4 linked regions of the Homo sapiens genome follow. The protein of the gene in region 1 purifies or fractionates together with the protein of each later gene. This does not show direct contact. Each region holds a gene or a part of one and is shown in the gene's direction. Other genes may lie near its edges.

Region 1 (4,217 bases):
AGAATATAAACCCACCCCTATGAGCCAGGGAACCACCCAAGCTGTAAGGATTTTGTGCAAGCTGCTGGAACTCGGGTTGGAAAAGCCACCCGGCAAGCAGCTGAAAGGAAGGATGCTTCTCCCTGCGTGGGCGCACGCCTGCTTCCTAAGAGATGATCCTTTGGGTGGGCTGATCATGCCTCCTCCTCTGGGGAGGGAGTCCTGCGAAAGCACGCACCTCAAAAGGAGTAAAGGCCCTATGGTGTCCCCAAAGCGACCCCTGTCGCGTTCTTTCTGCGGGTGGCCTCCCTGCATTACTGATTACTCGGAGCGGCTGAGCTGACGTCAGCATTCTGGGAGCGCCAATGACCTTTGGGGTCATCACATCCTCAGAAACTAGAGCAGGAGGGGAAGCGACCCCCAAGCCAGCACTCCCCCTACTTTCCACCAGGGAGCCGAGGTCGCGCCATCCTGGGGCGCATCTGGGGGTGGGGGACACACCAGCCCCCTCCCCCAACCCCTCTAGGGCCCTCGGCAGCAGGCGGTACTGGATGCCCACCCGGGGCTCTAAAGGACCTGGGCCGCACCGGGAACCCTCGCCCGGGTCTTCGAGCCCTCCCCTTCTCCCAATTCTTTCCGCAGTCTCAGGAGCCCCACGTTTCCCGCGGCGTGGGGACACGCACTTACCGCGGATCCACTGCGCAAACCTTGATGAACCTGAAAAAAGCAGGGTGGGGTGGGGTGGGGTGAGGGTGGGGGTGGCTAGACCCTGCTCGCACCCAGCGCCACGCACCGCTCTCTGGGCGGGTTCGAGTGCGCGCGCCGGGCGGGGCGGGACCCGGGGGCTGCGGTGTTTCGAGAAGCACGTGCTACTTCGCGCGCAGCGCCCCCGGAGACTGTGGGCTTCCTCGCTGCCTGGTCTACGGCAGGGCGGGCGCGGGGGCGTGTTTCAAAGGGTAGGGCACACAGTGAGACGCCGGGAGGCGGGATGGATCCGAAACCAGCTCGCAGCGAGTCCCAAGCGGCTGCGGCCGCCGCAGGGGTCTGGGCGCGGCGACGAGGGCGGCGTGGGGCGACGGGGAGCGGGACGGTGGCGCTGCACGCCGCGCACTTCCTGTTCAACACGCGCCGCCTCCCACCACCCGCGCTCCCCGAGCTTGCGTCGGTGCCAGGCCCGGCCCCTCACTGTCCCCTTGCGGTCCCCTGGGGCCGCGGCGCGGCGGGGGGCGAGGAGCGGGCGCCCTGCCCTTCTTGGCCCGCTGGACTCCGGGCGCCCCCTCCGGCGCGCAGGGCCGCGAGCGCCGCCGCCAGAACTTCTGCCAGCGGCCGCCCGTAGCCTAATTGCGCAGAGGGCTCGCCTTGCACCTCCTCTTCCCCCGCCGCCCTCCCTCTCGCCCAGAAAGGAGGACGGACCCAGCTGCAGGCTCCGAGCTGGTTTATTCTGCGGCCGAGGATTACATTTATGCACGAACGGGCTTACTGGTTCCAGATTCCCCACTTGGGCACAGGCATAGGAGGCTTGTTTTCCAAATTGCTGGTTTTAATTGCACCTGCCTTTCAGATTACCTCTGGGAATCTGTGGGAGGAGCCGAGAGGGTGGAAAATGTTTCTTAGCTTTGCAAAAGGAAGAAAACTTTGTCACCCAGCGGGAGACCTCAGCCACGAGTAACCCGGGGAGACACCAGAACCGGGACGGGCTTTGACTGATTTGCCTACGAGGGTTCCGTAGGAAAGGACGCTTGAATTCGGCGCTTCGGCGGCGGCGGCGGCCGCGCGAGTTCCCTGCTCACCCTCCCTCTCCGCGGAAGTCCCCACGAGGTGGCTTCAGGGTGTAACAGAGCGCGCGGCTCCAGTCCGAAGGCAGCGGCCGGGGGAGGGAAGGAGGGGACCGAACCCCCGAGGAGTTTCGCAGAATCAACTTCTGGTTAGAGTTATGGGAAGCGCGGTTATGGACACCAAGAAGAAAAAAGATGTTTCCAGCCCCGGCGGGAGCGGCGGCAAGAAAAATGCCAGCCAGAAGAGGCGTTCGCTGCGCGTGCACATTCCGGTGAGTCCCAGCACTCGGTCCCCTGCTCCCCAGCCCTCCTGTCGCTCCCGTCCCCGGCGCCGAAGCGGTTAACGCTGGACGCCCCGCGCGCGCCGTGCGTGCCCCTCCTGTCACTTCGGGCGGCTTGGGGAAAGGGTAGAGGGACAGGGCCCGAGCTGGGCTGGCGGAGCCGGGGCTCAATCTCTCTCTCTGCCCGCGTGCAGCCAGGGCTGGGGCTCCGCCTGGGGCGGGGGCTGGGCGGCTGCAGACTAGAGGGGGCGCCGGGCGCGGCGGGTGGGCGGCTGGGCGTAGCCCGGTATCCAGCCGGGTGCGGGTGCGGGGGGCGGTGCGTTGTGTTGTTTTGCTGAAAAGGGACGGTGTGGACTGCGCTCCGGGGAGGTGGAGCCCGCGCTCGGCTGCTGGAGACGGAGAGAGGGGAGGGGAGGGAGGAGAGGGGAGGGGCGGTGGGTGGGGAAAGCAGCGGGGCGGGGGTTGGGGGGAGCTGTGTAGCTGCGTCTTCCAATGCACCCCCTCCGCTCCAGTTTCTCTCCGGGCGTTTCTGGGCCTGGAGCGGGGGTCTCCTCTGCCGCCGTTCCCTTCCCCCGCCCCGGGAGTGTACTTTGGGTCTCTGTGGTATTTGGGGGCTCGGAGCTCCCTAATCCGTGCAGGCTGCATTGAACTTCAGCCCCGTCCGCGCCAGCCGCCCGGGAGGACATTGGCGACTCGGATCTGCCTGCGGCTTCACTTTGTCCAGCCAGAGGGGCGGCGGGCCGCGTAGTGGTTCTCTTTTCGGAAGGCGCCCCGGTAGCCCGCGGCCACTGTTCCTCGCCTCCACGTAGCGGGGTAGGGCGGTGGGAGGTGTGGCCCACTGGGTCACACCCTCCGCCTCAGCCAACCAAGTAAATGTTTGTGTACACACACACACACACACACACACACACACACACACACACACACACACACACCAGAGTGCTCCGTAGAGAAAGTTATTTTGCTCTCCCGGGGCAGGGTGGGAGTGCGCAGTGAATGGGCTGTCCGGACCCCTCATTAAAGCTAATCCTTCCCGACAGGGTCAGGCGCAGCTGGCATGGCCGAGGCAGGCCACTCACTTCCCACTGTGAATCCCAGGGCGCACTGCCCCGTGTTTGCTGAGCCACCCTTCTTTTAGACGCCCCGCTAAGGTCCTCCTGTGTAAACTCCGGCCCACACGTGCCTAACGCTTGGGTGAAGAGGGTGGAGTCCAGGGGCGGGTCTCCAGACACCTGATGCCAAGTAGCCCCACAGGGGCCCTGGGCCAGCCCTCCCTGGCTGGAAAGCTCTGGGGCTGGAAACTTGGACCCCTGGCTGCTGTGTGGCCCCCACGGTGGTGACTCGATTATGCAGGAATAAGTGTTCTATTTGAAAATGAAACATTCTTGTTTACATCTCTCATGTAAGACATTTAAAACCATGTTCGTGAGTTAAAAGTTAGATGTTGCTGCCACAAACCTCTTAAACAGTGATCACTTGAGCTAACCGTGTAACTACTGTTTCTCCCATTTGTCAAATGCAGGAAATAATACCCATTTTTCCTGCTTTATACGGATATTGAAATAAAGTAATTCATGGGAAAACTCTTTTTTATTGTTTTTTTTGTTTTGAGTCAGGGTGTCACTCTGCTCCCCAGGTGGGAATGCAGTGGTGCAATCATGGCTCACTGCAGCCTCAACCTCCCCAGGCTCAAGTGATCCTCCCACCTCAGCCTCCTGAGTAACTGGGACTACAGGCATGTGCCACCACACCCATCTAATTTATTTATTTTTTTTGTAGACATGAGGTTTTACCATGTTGCCCAAAGCTGGTCCACATGAGCTGGGCTCGAGTGACCCGCCCACCTTGACCTCTCAAAGTGCTGGGATTACAGGCGTGAGCCATCACACCCATCCCGGGAAAACTCTTGACAAGTGTAAAGTGTCCTATAAATGTATGGCTTATACATATACATATACATATACATATACATCATATACATATACATATACATCATATACATATACATCATATACATATACATCATATACATATACATATACATCATATACATATACATATACATCATATACATATACATATACATCATATACATATACATATACATCATATACATATACATCATATACATATACATATACATCATATACATATACATATACATCATATACATATACATCAT
Region 2 (4,287 bases), on another chromosome or scaffold:
GGCTCTGAGCTGGCTTGGCACAATGTGTCAGGGTGAGGGGGCCCCTTAGGGGCCTCAAGCAGGAGGGCTGAGGGCACCGCTGGTTCGTCTGTTCATGGTGGGCGGCTTTGTGTGGCCACCAGTGCTGGGTGGTGTGGGTTTGGGCTGTTCTCCCTCCTGGCTCAGCACGGGCCCGTCAGCCCAGTGTCCTTTGGGCCTGCCCTTCCCCTAGCATCCCTGGTTGGAAGGGTGTCCTCACAGGGCTGTGGGCGGGCCAGGGCTGGCTGCTGGTTAAATTTAGTGTGGGGGGTGGGGCAGCTGCCCAAGGTCCACCTGCCACCAGGGCTGCCACTTGGACTCCCTTGCCAGGGGGCGGGCAGGGGCTGGCTCTGCCTGGGGCCAGGCCCATGTTAACCTGTGCCCCGGCCTGGGGGCCAGAGGGGCAGGCCTGCGCACGGGGAGGCTGTTGTGGCAGCGGAACAGAGACGTGCACGGTGAGAGGCCTGGGGGCCGGCTGTCCAGGGCTCCCGATGGCTTTTCTCCCAGCCAGCAGGATCAGAGGAGCCAAGGTCCGACTTGGGCCTGGCTGGTTGCCCACAGCCCTGCTCAGAGGGCCGGCTCCCTGACCCCCATGGTTCAGGTTTCGGTGCCCGACGCTGGGGTGGGCCAGCGTGGAGCCTGGCCTTTCAGCTCAGCAGGCCTGTGGAGGTGGGGCTCTGACGGCCTATCCCAGCTCGTTTCCTACTCTCTCCTCCAATCGGGAACAAGAGGGCTGGAGAGCTCAGGTCACCCCTAGCCTCGGGTGTGTCCCAAGGGCAACCCCCAGCTGGTGCCTGGTGAAAGGGCATGACAGCAGCCACGGTGTGAGCTGTCCCAGGGCTCAGGGCTGGACTGCCTGGCTCCAGCCCCCTCCCCCAGCCCCTCGCAGTGCTCATCAGGGACCAAGGTCCAGCTACAGAGCTCTTGCAGCCTCTGGGCCATAGCTGCCAGCTCTGGAGGGTCCAGATGGAACCCAGAGCCTGAACACCCCTCCCCTCCCCCCAGCACCCCCTGGATTCCTGAGGCCTGGCTCAGTTAATAGGAGACAGGTCCGCTGGCCCAAGCAAAGATGCGGGTGCCACGAGGGCCAGGCCTCGGCCAAGCCCTGCTGGGGTAAATCCCAGCAGCCCAGGCTCCAGTCTCGCCTCGGGGGTCCCTCCTTGCCAGCTCTGCCAGCCCCTCAGGGCTGCTGGGCACCCCTTCACCTCCTGAGCACCCCAGGTGCTCAGCCCTCTCCCCCTCCCCCCATGTCTAGTCCCTCAGAGCTGTCCGGACTGACGTCTGTACCTACCCCCCATGTGGGTCTCCTGCTCTCCCTTCGTGGGGACACTAGGCAGGCACTGGGCCTTGCCCCAAGCCCCGCCTGCCACCTCACCCACTGCCTCTGCCTCCCTGGGGCAGAGCTGTTCCCAGACGGGTGGGGCGGGGCCCAACTGTCCCCAGCTCCTTCAGCCCTTTCTGTCCCTCCCAGTGAGGCCAGCTGCGGTGAAGAGGGTGCTCTCTTGCCTGGAGTTCCCTCTGCTACGGCTGCCCCCTCCCAGCCCTGGCCCACTAAGCCAGACCCAGCTGTCGCCATTCCCACTTCTGGTCCTGCCACCTCCTGAGCTGCCTTCCCGCCTGGTCTGGGTAGAGTCATGGCCTCGAGCACAGGTGACCGGAGCCAGGCGGTGAGGCATGGACTGAGGGCGAAGGTGCTGACGCTGGACGGCATGAACCCGCGTGTGCGGAGAGTGGAGTACGCAGTGCGTGGCCCCATAGTGCAGCGAGCCTTGGAGCTGGAGCAGGAGCTGCGCCAGGTATGGCCCAGGGCCCCTCGCTGCCCTCCAGGTCACAATGGGGTGGCCGAGTTGGCCCCAGCCCCACTGGCACATGGGACAAGGGCTGAGGGGTTAGGTAGGGCACAGTCTCCCTGCCTGCTCCCCTCCCCTCCCAGGGTGTGAAGAAGCCTTTCACCGAGGTCATCCGTGCCAACATCGGGGACGCACAGGCTATGGGGCAGAGGCCCATCACCTTCCTGCGCCAGGTGAGGCTCCTGCACTGCCCGGAGCACCCCCCCACCCCCAGCCCATGTGCCCTGGCCTCAGCACTCCGTCTTCCCAGGTCTTGGCCCTCTGTGTTAACCCTGATCTTCTGAGCAGCCCCAACTTCCCTGACGATGCCAAGAAAAGGGCGGAGCGCATCTTGCAGGCGTGTGGGGGCCACAGTCTGGGTGAGAGCCAGGGCCAGGAGGAAGCAGAGGGCCGCCCTGCCACTGGAGGAGGGAAGTCCCTTGGGAGGGCTGAGGAGAACTTCACCTGTACTTCCCATCCTGTCCTGCCCGAGTCCAGGGGCCTACAGCGTCAGCTCCGGCATCCAGCTGATCCGGGAGGACGTGGCGCGGTACATTGAGAGGCGTGACGGAGGCATCCCTGCGGACCCCAACAACGTCTTCCTGTCCACAGGGGCCAGCGATGCCATCGTGGTAGGCTGGGCATGGGCACCAAGACATTCCTGACACTGCAGAGGGGGCGCCCAGGGTGGGGGACAGGTGCGGCCCCAGGCCTCGCCAACCCTGCCTTCCCCTTCCTTTCCGCAGACGGTGCTGAAGCTGCTGGTGGCCGGCGAGGGCCACACACGCACGGGTGTGCTCATCCCCATCCCCCAGTACCCACTCTACTCGGCCACGCTGGCAGAGCTGGGCGCAGTGCAGGTGGATTACTACCTGGACGAGGAGCGTGCCTGGGCGCTGGACGTGGCCGAGCTTCACCGTGCACTGGGCCAGGCGCGTGACCACTGCCGCCCTCGTGCGCTCTGTGTCATCAACCCTGGCAACCCCACCGGTGCGTTCCCCGCCGCCCCGCCCCACTCCCCCCGCGCCCACGTTGCGTTCCCCGCCGCCCCGCCCCACTCCCCCCGCGCCCACGGTGCGTTCCCCGCCGCCCCGCCCCACTCCCCCCGCGCCCACGGTGCGTTCCCCGCCGCCCCGCCCCACTCCCCCCGCGCCCACGGTGCGTTCCCCGCCGCCCCGCCCCACTCCCTCCGCGCCCACGGTGCGTTCCCCGCCGCCCCGCCCCACTCCTCCCGCACCCACGTGCGCCCTGGCCCAGGCAGTGCCGGGTCCGCTGGACCCCGGCTGCCCAGCGGAGGGCAGTGCGCCCCCTTGGCTCACCCAGCACTGCTGCCTCCCCGGCACCCCAGGGCAGGTGCAGACCCGCGAGTGCATCGAGGCCGTGATCCGCTTCGCCTTCGAAGAGCGGCTCTTTCTGCTGGCGGACGAGGTGCGCGGCGCGGGGGAGCGGGAAGCCGGGCAACAGTCCGCCCCCGTGACGCCTTGCGCCCTTCCAGGTGTACCAGGACAACGTGTACGCCGCGGGTTCGCAGTTCCACTCATTCAAGAAGGTGCTCATGGAGATGGGGCCGCCCTACGCCGGGCAGCAGGAGCTTGCCTCCTTCCACTCCACCTCCAAGGGCTACATGGGCGAGTGCGTGCGTACGAGGCGGGTGGGGGCTCGCGGGCCATGGCCAGGCCCTCCTCGCCCGATGGGCCACCCCCTCCTCCGCACCTGACCTGGCCGTGCGCAGGTGCGGGTTCCGCGGCGGCTATGTGGAGGTGGTGAACATGGACGCTGCAGTGCAGCAGCAGATGCTGAAGCTGATGAGTGTGCGGCTGTGCCCGCCGGTGCCAGGACAGGCCCTGCTGGACCTGGTGGTCAGCCCGCCCGCGCCCACCGACCCCTCCTTTGCGCAGTTCCAGGCTGTGAGTTGGGGGCAGGAGGGGGTCCAGGTGACCTAATCAGGGGTGGGGGATGCCGAGTGCCGTGCCCTGATGGGCCCTCCCTCCGCGGCCACAGGAGAAGCAGGCAGTGCTGGCAGAGCTGGCGGCCAAGGCCAAGCTCACCGAGCAGGTCTTCAATGAGGCTCCTGGCATCAGCTGCAACCCAGTGCAGGGCGCCATGTACTCCTTCCCGCGCGTGCAGCTGCCCCCGCGGGCGGTGGAGCGCGCTCAGGTCAGGCGGGGGCGGGGCCTGCGGGGTGGGCAGGGGGGGCCGGGCATCCCTCTCTGACGGCTCTCCGTCCACAGGAGCTGGGCCTGGCCCCCGATATGTTCTTCTGCCTGCGCCTCCTGGAGGAGACCGGCATCTGCGTGGTGCCAGGGAGCGGCTTTGGGCAGCGGGAAGGCACCTACCACTTCCGGTGAGGCCTGGCCCTCACTCCCTGTCCCGCCACCCTGGCCCTTCACTCACTGTCAACTCCTTTCAGGATGACCATTCTGCCCCCCTTGGAGAAACT
Region 3 (3,500 bases), on another chromosome or scaffold:
TTTTTTGTTTTTATAATTGCTGTTGTAACTGGGCAGGGATGATACCTCATTGTGGTTTTGATTTGCATTTCCTTGATGATTAGCGACATGGAGCATTGCTTCCTATGTTTGTTTACTATTTATATGGTTTTGTTGTTGTTCGTTTGTTTGCTTGAGACCAGGAGGTTGAGGCTGAAGTGAATGACAAACATCTTAAAAAGACAGGGTCTTACTCTGACCCAGGCTGGAGTGCCGTGGTACGATGTTTGTCATTCACTTCAGCCTCAACTTCCTGATCTCAAGCAATCCTCCCACCTCAGCCTCCTGAGTAGCTGGGACTGCAGGTGTGCACCACCACTCCTGGCTACTTTTTTTGTATTTTTTGTAGAGATAGGGTTTCACACATGTTGCCTAGGCTGGTCTCAAACTTCTGGACTCAAGCGATCCACCAGTCTCAGCCTCCTGAAGTATTGGGATCACACTCATGAGCTACCATGCCCATCTGTGTGTCTTCTTTCTGAGAAATGTCTATTTAATTCTTTTGTCCTCTTTTTAATTTGATTATTTAGTTTTTTTGCTATTGAGTTGTTTGAATTCCTTGTATATTCTGGATATTAGTCCTTTGTAAGATGAATAGTTTGTAAATATTTTCTCCCATTCTACAGGTTGTCTTTTCGCTCTTGATTGTTTCCTTTGCTAGGGTGGAGACGTCAGTTTAATATAGTCCCATTTGTCTATTTTAGTTTTTGTTGCCTATGTGTTTGAAGTCTTAGCTGTGAAACCTTTGCCTAGACCAATGTCTTGAAGCATTTCTTCTATGTTTGCTTATAGTAAAGTTAAACAATAAAAGAAGAAGAAAGGTACAAAGAATATACAAAGTAATTAGAAAATAATTAACAAAATGACAAGGACTAAGTCCTCATCTATCAATAATAGCCTTAAATGTAAATGTTAAATTCCCCAATTAAAAGATATGGACTGGCTGAATGGATTAAAAAAAAAAAAGACACAACTATATACTGCCCACAGAAAACTCACTTCACCTGTAAAGGCACACGTAGACTGAAAGTAAGGGATGGAAAAAAATATTCCACACAAACGGAAACCAAAAGTGTGCAAATTAGCTATACTTATATCAGACAAAATAGACTTTAAGGCAAAAAAAAAAAAAAACACAAAGAGAAAGAAGGTCATTATATAAAGATAAAGTGATCAGTTCAGCAAGAGGATATAACAATTGTAAATATATTTATACACCTAACACCAGAGCACCTAGATTTATGAGGCAAATATTATTAGAGTTAAATAGGTAGACTCCAATAGAATAATAGTTGCAGACTTCTTCAGCATTGGACAGATGGATTATCTAGAAAGAAAATCAACAAAGAAACATCAGACTTAATCTGCACTATAGACCAAACAGGCATAACAGACATTTACAAAACATTTCATACTATCCCTTTGTTAAGACAGAGGAACAGAATGTGCGTTTGGACCATTTAATAGCAGTTTTGGCTCATTGAGGTACGAATTCAAAAAGAGGGACATATTAACTAAACTGTGTTGAGCCCATCGAAATGGTTAGCTGATCTGTCAATAAATCATTCCTACTGACTCAGACTTTTACAATAGTAAAATAATATATACAATTTTTTATATATTTTAAAAACATAAAAAGAAAGCAAGTTTAGTTTCTTGAAATCCTGCCTTTCCTAGAATTTAAATCCCTTTCTCGGCATTGTTGAGATAGACACAGTGTTTTCATACCCTCTGTTTCAATGATGGCATGAATAAAGTGGATATACCACAACAAAGCATTCTTCTATAAGAGACACTTAAGCATTATCTCCAGTTTGTCTCTATTATGAATATTCTTTGGCAGACATCTTTGTTTTCCTGAATGTTAGAGTTTATTTCCTCAGAATAGCTTTCCTGAAATGAAATTACTGGAGCAAATTGTATGAATATTTTAAAGCCCCTATTTTCAGCATATTTCTAAATAGCTTTGCAAAAGGATATTTATTAATTTGCCTTATGCCAGCAAAATATATGAAAACTATAGTATTACCCCAGGCTTAACAAGCTGCTACATTACTTTTCTTTGTGTTTATTTTATTCCTAGCAAGCTTGGCAAATTTTGCTACTATTCATTTGCAGTTTTAGTATGTTATTTGGTGCTTAATTTTTGTTTTGTTTTGTTTTCTCATCAATTGGCTTATTTTTCCCAGCTCCCGTCTCATCTGCTTTCCTCACCTGTATTCCTTTGTACAGGCTCACATGATTCATTCAGCTACTGGGTGGATGAAAAGTCCCCAGTGGGGCCTGACCAAACCCAAGCTATCAAACGCCTCGCCAGGATCTCCTTGGTGAAGAAGCTAATGAAGAAGTGGTCTGTGACTCAGAACCTGACATTTCGAGAACAGCTGGAAGCTGGGATCCGCTACTTTGACCTGCGTGTGTCTTCCAAACCAGGGGATGCCGACCAGGAGATCTACTTCATCCATGGGCTTTTTGGCATCAAGGTCTGGGATGGGCTGATGGAAATTGACTCGTTTCTTACACAGCACCCCCAGGAGATTATCTTCCTGGATTTCAACCACTTCTATGCCATGGATGAGACCCATCACAAATGCCTGGTTCTGCGGATCCAGGAGGCCTTTGGAAACAAGCTGTGCCCAGCCTGCAGTGTGGAAAGTTTGACGCTGCGAACTCTGTGGGAGAAGAACTGCCAGGTAGGAGGGAAGGAGAGATAAGCTTCCAAGAGCAAGAATTTAACTCTTCCTGCTTTTCCTGTATTGCCGTCTGTAAAATCACTCAATCCAGGGCTCTTAGGCTAAAGAGTGGATTGTTTGGAATATTAAACATATGCAAACTAGTTCCTGGGCTCTAGAATAGGTTCAAGGGCCAGGGCTAACACCTGCCAAATACTTAAAGCTTGTCCAGCAAACTGTTTGACATCTAATTGACTTTTAGTGGCCTGGCCAGAACCAACCAAGGCAAAGTTGTAAAATTGGGCCAATAGGTCATTACTATTCTCTGTTTCCCGAGGTCCATTTTTACCCTTCTGGTTCCCCTCAGGGATAGTCTGTTCCATCTTGCCTTCAACTCAATGTCAGATAATCCTGGCCAAGGTATCGACTGATTAGGAAAAGTATTAGCTGACTGAAACATAGTGATTCATCTCAGGAGTGTTAATATTATAAAAGTATTTGGGTCTTAGAGGGAGAGAGAGTTAAGGAAGGAAGAGCCTGTTGAAGGGGCTGCAGCCTGTAAGAGCATTCCATAGTCTGCTTAAGTTGAGAAGAGCCTGCCAGCCTAGGACCATGAGGGACACGCTCAGGAAGAGGAATGTGGGCCTCAGATATATTCCACTCTGATCCTAAAGGATGACAGTAGGAGAAAAGAGCTTCAGGAAAGTGTTTAATTTACACTCTCTGGAAAAAAAAAAAAAAAAGACATACCTTTCATTCAAAGTTACTCACTTGCTCAGCAGATGCATTAACCAAAACAACTTTACGAGG
Region 4 (4,118 bases), on another chromosome or scaffold:
GAGTGTAGAATGAAAAAAGAAAGTTTGTAAATAAATAATCATACTATCTATATTTTAAACATCTATATTATATATTATAAATTTTCTATGGCCCAATTTCCTTAGACCAGTTTTACTAATTTATATTTTCCCAGAAAATACATATGTAAATGTACAGAAAAGGTCTGCAATATTACAAACTAAACGGGTATCCGTAGTTACCTTGGGAGAAAAGGGAGATACCAGCATTGTGAGTGTTCATCAAAGGGAAAATTTAGCCTAATCTCTAAGGCTTTAATTTTTATGTAATTACAGTGTAAGAGGTTACACACCTGCATATATTTATCAAACCCATAGGCCTGGAATTGTTCTGCATCCTATCTGTGGTGGTGGCTACATGAATCAATACGTGTATAAAAACTCATACAATCATACAACAAAAGAAGTAAATTTTATTATAAAGTTTAAAAATTTTTAAAAATAAAAGCAAAAAACCTCATAAAACTGTCACTTTAAAAGGGTGAATTTGACTCTATGTAAATTATACCTCAATATATCTGACCTTAAAAAAAGGAAAGAGTTTAATTAAAAAAAATCATAATTTATTTAAAGAATAGGGTATAAATTACATTAGTGATATGATATATTAATTATTAAAGCATATTACAAGGCACACATGTACTATATATGCATCTATAATATGATCCCACTTATACGCCTCTATCTTATTTCTGCATTAGAGATTACAGAGACTTTTTTTACTTACCTGTATTTTTTTCTGTAATAAACATATTATTTTCTACTAATAATGTTTTTCAAAGTTAGATGAGTGGGCACTGGCCCAATGGTGGAGACTCAAGGTAGAATCTCTGCTGTCTAAGCCTGGACTTCAAGAGTGAGCATCTGTAGTGGCCCAAGGGAATGCAGTGGGGGGTTCCCGTGGTAGCAAATAAGGAAACGTGCTTAAGGCCCTGACAGCCGTGTGCCCCGGGTATCTGATCATTTGGCTACCACAGGCGTGCATGAAAGAGTTTGCCAAATTGAATATAGCTCTTAAGAACTTACTCTGAGGCCCCATCAGGCACTGTCAAAGATTCCCTTCCCAGCACACTAGAAAGCATTCTCTGCTGGCAGATCGGTCTCTGTCAAATTATTTATAGGAGATTGGTTTGCATACACAAAATGATATGAATACTTCTAATTATATCCAAACATGACAAATGTCACTACAAACTATGCTGAGGGTTCATGTTGCCAAATGTCTTGCCCTAACAAAGAGGAGGTAGTTGCAGCATCAGCACATTAGTTCCTATATAAGCAGGACTGCCCCTTGTGCCTTATTTCCACCAAGAACCCAGAGGTAAGTGATGAAGGCCTTGGAACTCGAAAAACCCCAGGTGGGGAAAAGAGCTGACCTCGTAGTTATCTGTGAGCATTAAACTGCTCTCTCAATCTTAACTTTTGTCTTCATAGAACCAAGCTTTGGGGTAGGGAAACTTCAATTCTGTAACTATAATAACAATTCTGTAACTATAATATTGGAATTTCGGAGCATCACTAATAAGAAGCTTGTTGTTTTACAGAGTGGAACACTTCTGAACCTGCATTTTTATCTGGAACTCCAGAGGTAAGACTTGGCTTTATTAATTTATTGATGACAGAGGGGATATAGTCTAATGAAGCTGTGAACAATCCTGAATTATACACCATTTCCATGTTTTTGCAGTTATATCAGGAAAGAGTGTTTCCGAGTGAGTGTTTATAAATGCTAGAAAATAACTTTTTCAAAATGTCTTCTTCTCAGAGACTATCCTCATTTGGGTTCCAAGATTCAAAGACCGTTTAGGACAGAATTAGCTTCAACAGTGAGTTCTCAGCTGTGCTTAGAACTGTCCAGTGGCAATAGACTAGTCCATGCCAGTCTTCTTCTATGGCAAAGCATTGAGGACTTAGGACATTTTATAGACATTTTTAAAGACTCCAGAAAGATTTTTACCTAGAAATATAAATATAAATATTTTAGCTACCTTTGATTATTTGTTATTTGTTGTTAGAAAGACTTATTATTATTTACTTAACAGGTCGCAAGTATTACATCCACCGGGTGTTAAATACCATGACTAATTTAAGAGGAATCCTGCCCTTCCCTAAGTAACTTTCTAATTGAAAATAAAGGAAAAACTCAACCAATCTAACATGTCCACATTGCAGAGGCCTATCTATTAATCAGAAGACAATGGCTTACATGCATGTGATGTACTCTTAAAACTTTTTTCTCTGTTTTCTGGGTGGAAAGAAAAGAAACCCATGGAATTTATGTGGGAAGAAGGGCCTTTGTGCTGAAGCTCTCATTCCTCTGTGGTTAGATCTGTTAACTGACAGCTGAAATCTCTCATGTCAAAAAAGATTTTGGAATCAAGGCAATGCTAAGTCTGTTGGGAACAACCCAAATTACAAAAAATCCAGAGTATTAGAATGTATTATGTTCTTCTAACAATCCACTGAGAGATACAACACCAAATATCAACATAAAGATGTTAAAAATAATTATTTGCTTTATGAGAGAAAATGGCCATCTTAAAAGGCAAAGATTTTTTGATAGCTTTGAAAATATGAACCTTCATTTGAACAAGACAAACTTTCTTTTCTCACCATATGATTGTCCTGGCATATGGCATAGACAAACATTATGCAGAAAGAGGAGAGGAAATTAAATAATGACAGTTGCTATAAAACAATCCATCAATAGTTTTAGCTGTAGAGGTTTCATTCTAATTCAATTGTAGGTACCCTATCCCTGAGGATCAAGATATGTGATCTGAAAAGGAAATTCACAGTCCTAAAAATGAAATCTCAAATTACAGTCTCACTCCATACTTGTCCTTTAGACTATGTTAGAACACTGGGGAGTGCCAGTTTGGAGGAATAGTTACAGCACAGGCTATGTTCAACATTTCTTTCATTTCAAATCCTAACTCACATTTGTGACTTCTGCTTTTTATATCTCTCTCTCCCGTTTCTCTCCTCCCTAGGCAGAATCCTTTGCTAAATAAATCGCAGCCATGAGTGCGAGCTCAGACGCTGAGATGGCTGTTTTTGGCGAAGCTGCTCCCTACCTTCGAAAATCAGAAAAGGAGCGGATTGAGGCCCAAAACAAGCCGTTTGATGCTAAAACATCTGTCTTTGTGGCGGAGCCCAAGGAATCCTATGTGAAGAGCACTATACAAAGCAAAGAAGGAGGGAAAGTAACCGTAAAGACTGAAGGTGGAGCAGTAAGTGAAAACAGGGAGAAAATACTCCCCATTTTATTTCTTGGTTCAAAAGTTGAAGCCTAACTTACTGGGAATCTCCAAGCCTGTTGCCAATGCAAACACCCTTCTAGTCAGTGTTGAGACATTAGATGTGGAAGGCAAAAGAAATTCACAGCAGTACCTTCATGTCTTCCCTTCCCAACTTCGCACAGGACCTCACCCCACTATGTATGGCCTTCACCATTTCCCTTCAATTCCCCACTTCCTAGTCTGAATGTCCAAACTTGAGGGAAATGAAAACAAGCTCCTCCTATCAGAAGTTAAATATTTACTTAGTTAAATAATGTATTAATATCCCCATTACTTCCAAAAACATGAAGTTTCTTAATGAATGAAAGAAAAAAATAAAAATTTAGCCTACTAAAATAAGAAAAAAAGGATATAAACTGATAAATCTGGGATAAGAGAATGTGGGAGGAAAAAATCTTTTAAAAAGATAGTGTCCTAGCTCATCATAGGAAACAGGTTTTCTTAACATTAAACTCTGAAATGAATATATTTCATGCCTTTTTTAAGAGGACATTAAATAATATAATGAGAAGTATGTGTGATTATAGTTTTGTACCAAAATATACAGGCAAACATAAACCCTACCTCCAACCATTAAAACGAACTGGTCTTAGCCAGGCGCAGTGGCTCACGCCTGTAATCCCAGCACTTTGGGAGGCTGAGGCAGGTGGATCACCTGAGATCAGGAGTTCGAGACCAGCCTGGCCAACATGGCGAAATCCTGTCTCTACTAAAAATACAAAAATTAGCTGGGCATGGTGATGGGCACTTGCAATCCCAGCTACTCAGAAGGCTGAGGCAGGACAATCACTTGAAGCA

The links. The genes of interacting proteins can lie anywhere in the genome.
Region 2: the proteins of PRKAG2 (region 1) and GPT purify together in Homo sapiens (affinity purification with mass spectrometry, with the first as the bait; one large-scale study listed by BioGRID). This does not show direct contact.
Region 3: the proteins of PRKAG2 (region 1) and PLCXD2 purify together in Homo sapiens (affinity purification with mass spectrometry, with the first as the bait; one large-scale study listed by BioGRID). This does not show direct contact.
Region 4: the proteins of PRKAG2 (region 1) and MYH8 purify together in Homo sapiens (affinity purification with mass spectrometry; one large-scale study listed by BioGRID and IntAct). This does not show direct contact.

What each region holds. Positions count from the first base shown.
Region 1 is NC_000007.14:151,874,316-151,878,532, reverse strand, and holds the start of PRKAG2 (5'-AMP-activated protein kinase subunit gamma-2), read left to right. Parts: upstream 1-1,417; 5' UTR 1,418-1,912; coding exon 1,913-2,026; intron 2,027-4,217. UniProt on the Homo sapiens protein: AMP/ATP-binding subunit of AMP-activated protein kinase (AMPK), an energy sensor protein kinase that plays a key role in regulating cellular energy metabolism.
Region 2 is NC_000008.11:144,502,653-144,506,939, forward strand, and holds the start of GPT (alanine aminotransferase 1), read left to right. Parts: upstream 1-1,487; 5' UTR 1,488-1,652; coding exon 1,653-1,814; intron 1,815-1,951; coding exon 1,952-2,041; intron 2,042-2,118; coding exon 2,119-2,227; intron 2,228-2,312; exon of another isoform or gene 2,313-2,345; coding exon 2,346-2,479; exon of another isoform or gene 2,480-2,514; intron 2,515-2,593; coding exon 2,594-2,837; intron 2,838-3,195; coding exon 3,196-3,275; intron 3,276-3,342; coding exon 3,343-3,479; intron 3,480-3,579; coding exon 3,580-3,754; intron 3,755-3,848; coding exon 3,849-4,004; intron 4,005-4,078; coding exon 4,079-4,191; intron 4,192-4,257; coding exon 4,258-4,287. UniProt on the Homo sapiens protein: Catalyzes the reversible transamination between alanine and 2-oxoglutarate to form pyruvate and glutamate. Participates in cellular nitrogen metabolism and also in liver gluconeogenesis starting with precursors transported from skeletal muscles.
Region 3 is NC_000003.12:111,705,676-111,709,175, forward strand, and holds part of PLCXD2 (PI-PLC X domain-containing protein 2), read left to right. Parts: intron 1-2,250; coding exon 2,251-2,711; intron 2,712-3,500.
Region 4 is NC_000017.11:10,419,151-10,423,268, reverse strand, and holds the start of MYH8 (myosin-8), read left to right. Parts: upstream 1-1,318; 5' UTR 1,319-1,339; intron 1,340-1,562; 5' UTR 1,563-1,606; intron 1,607-3,011; 5' UTR 3,012-3,041; coding exon 3,042-3,251; intron 3,252-4,118. UniProt on the Homo sapiens protein: Muscle contraction.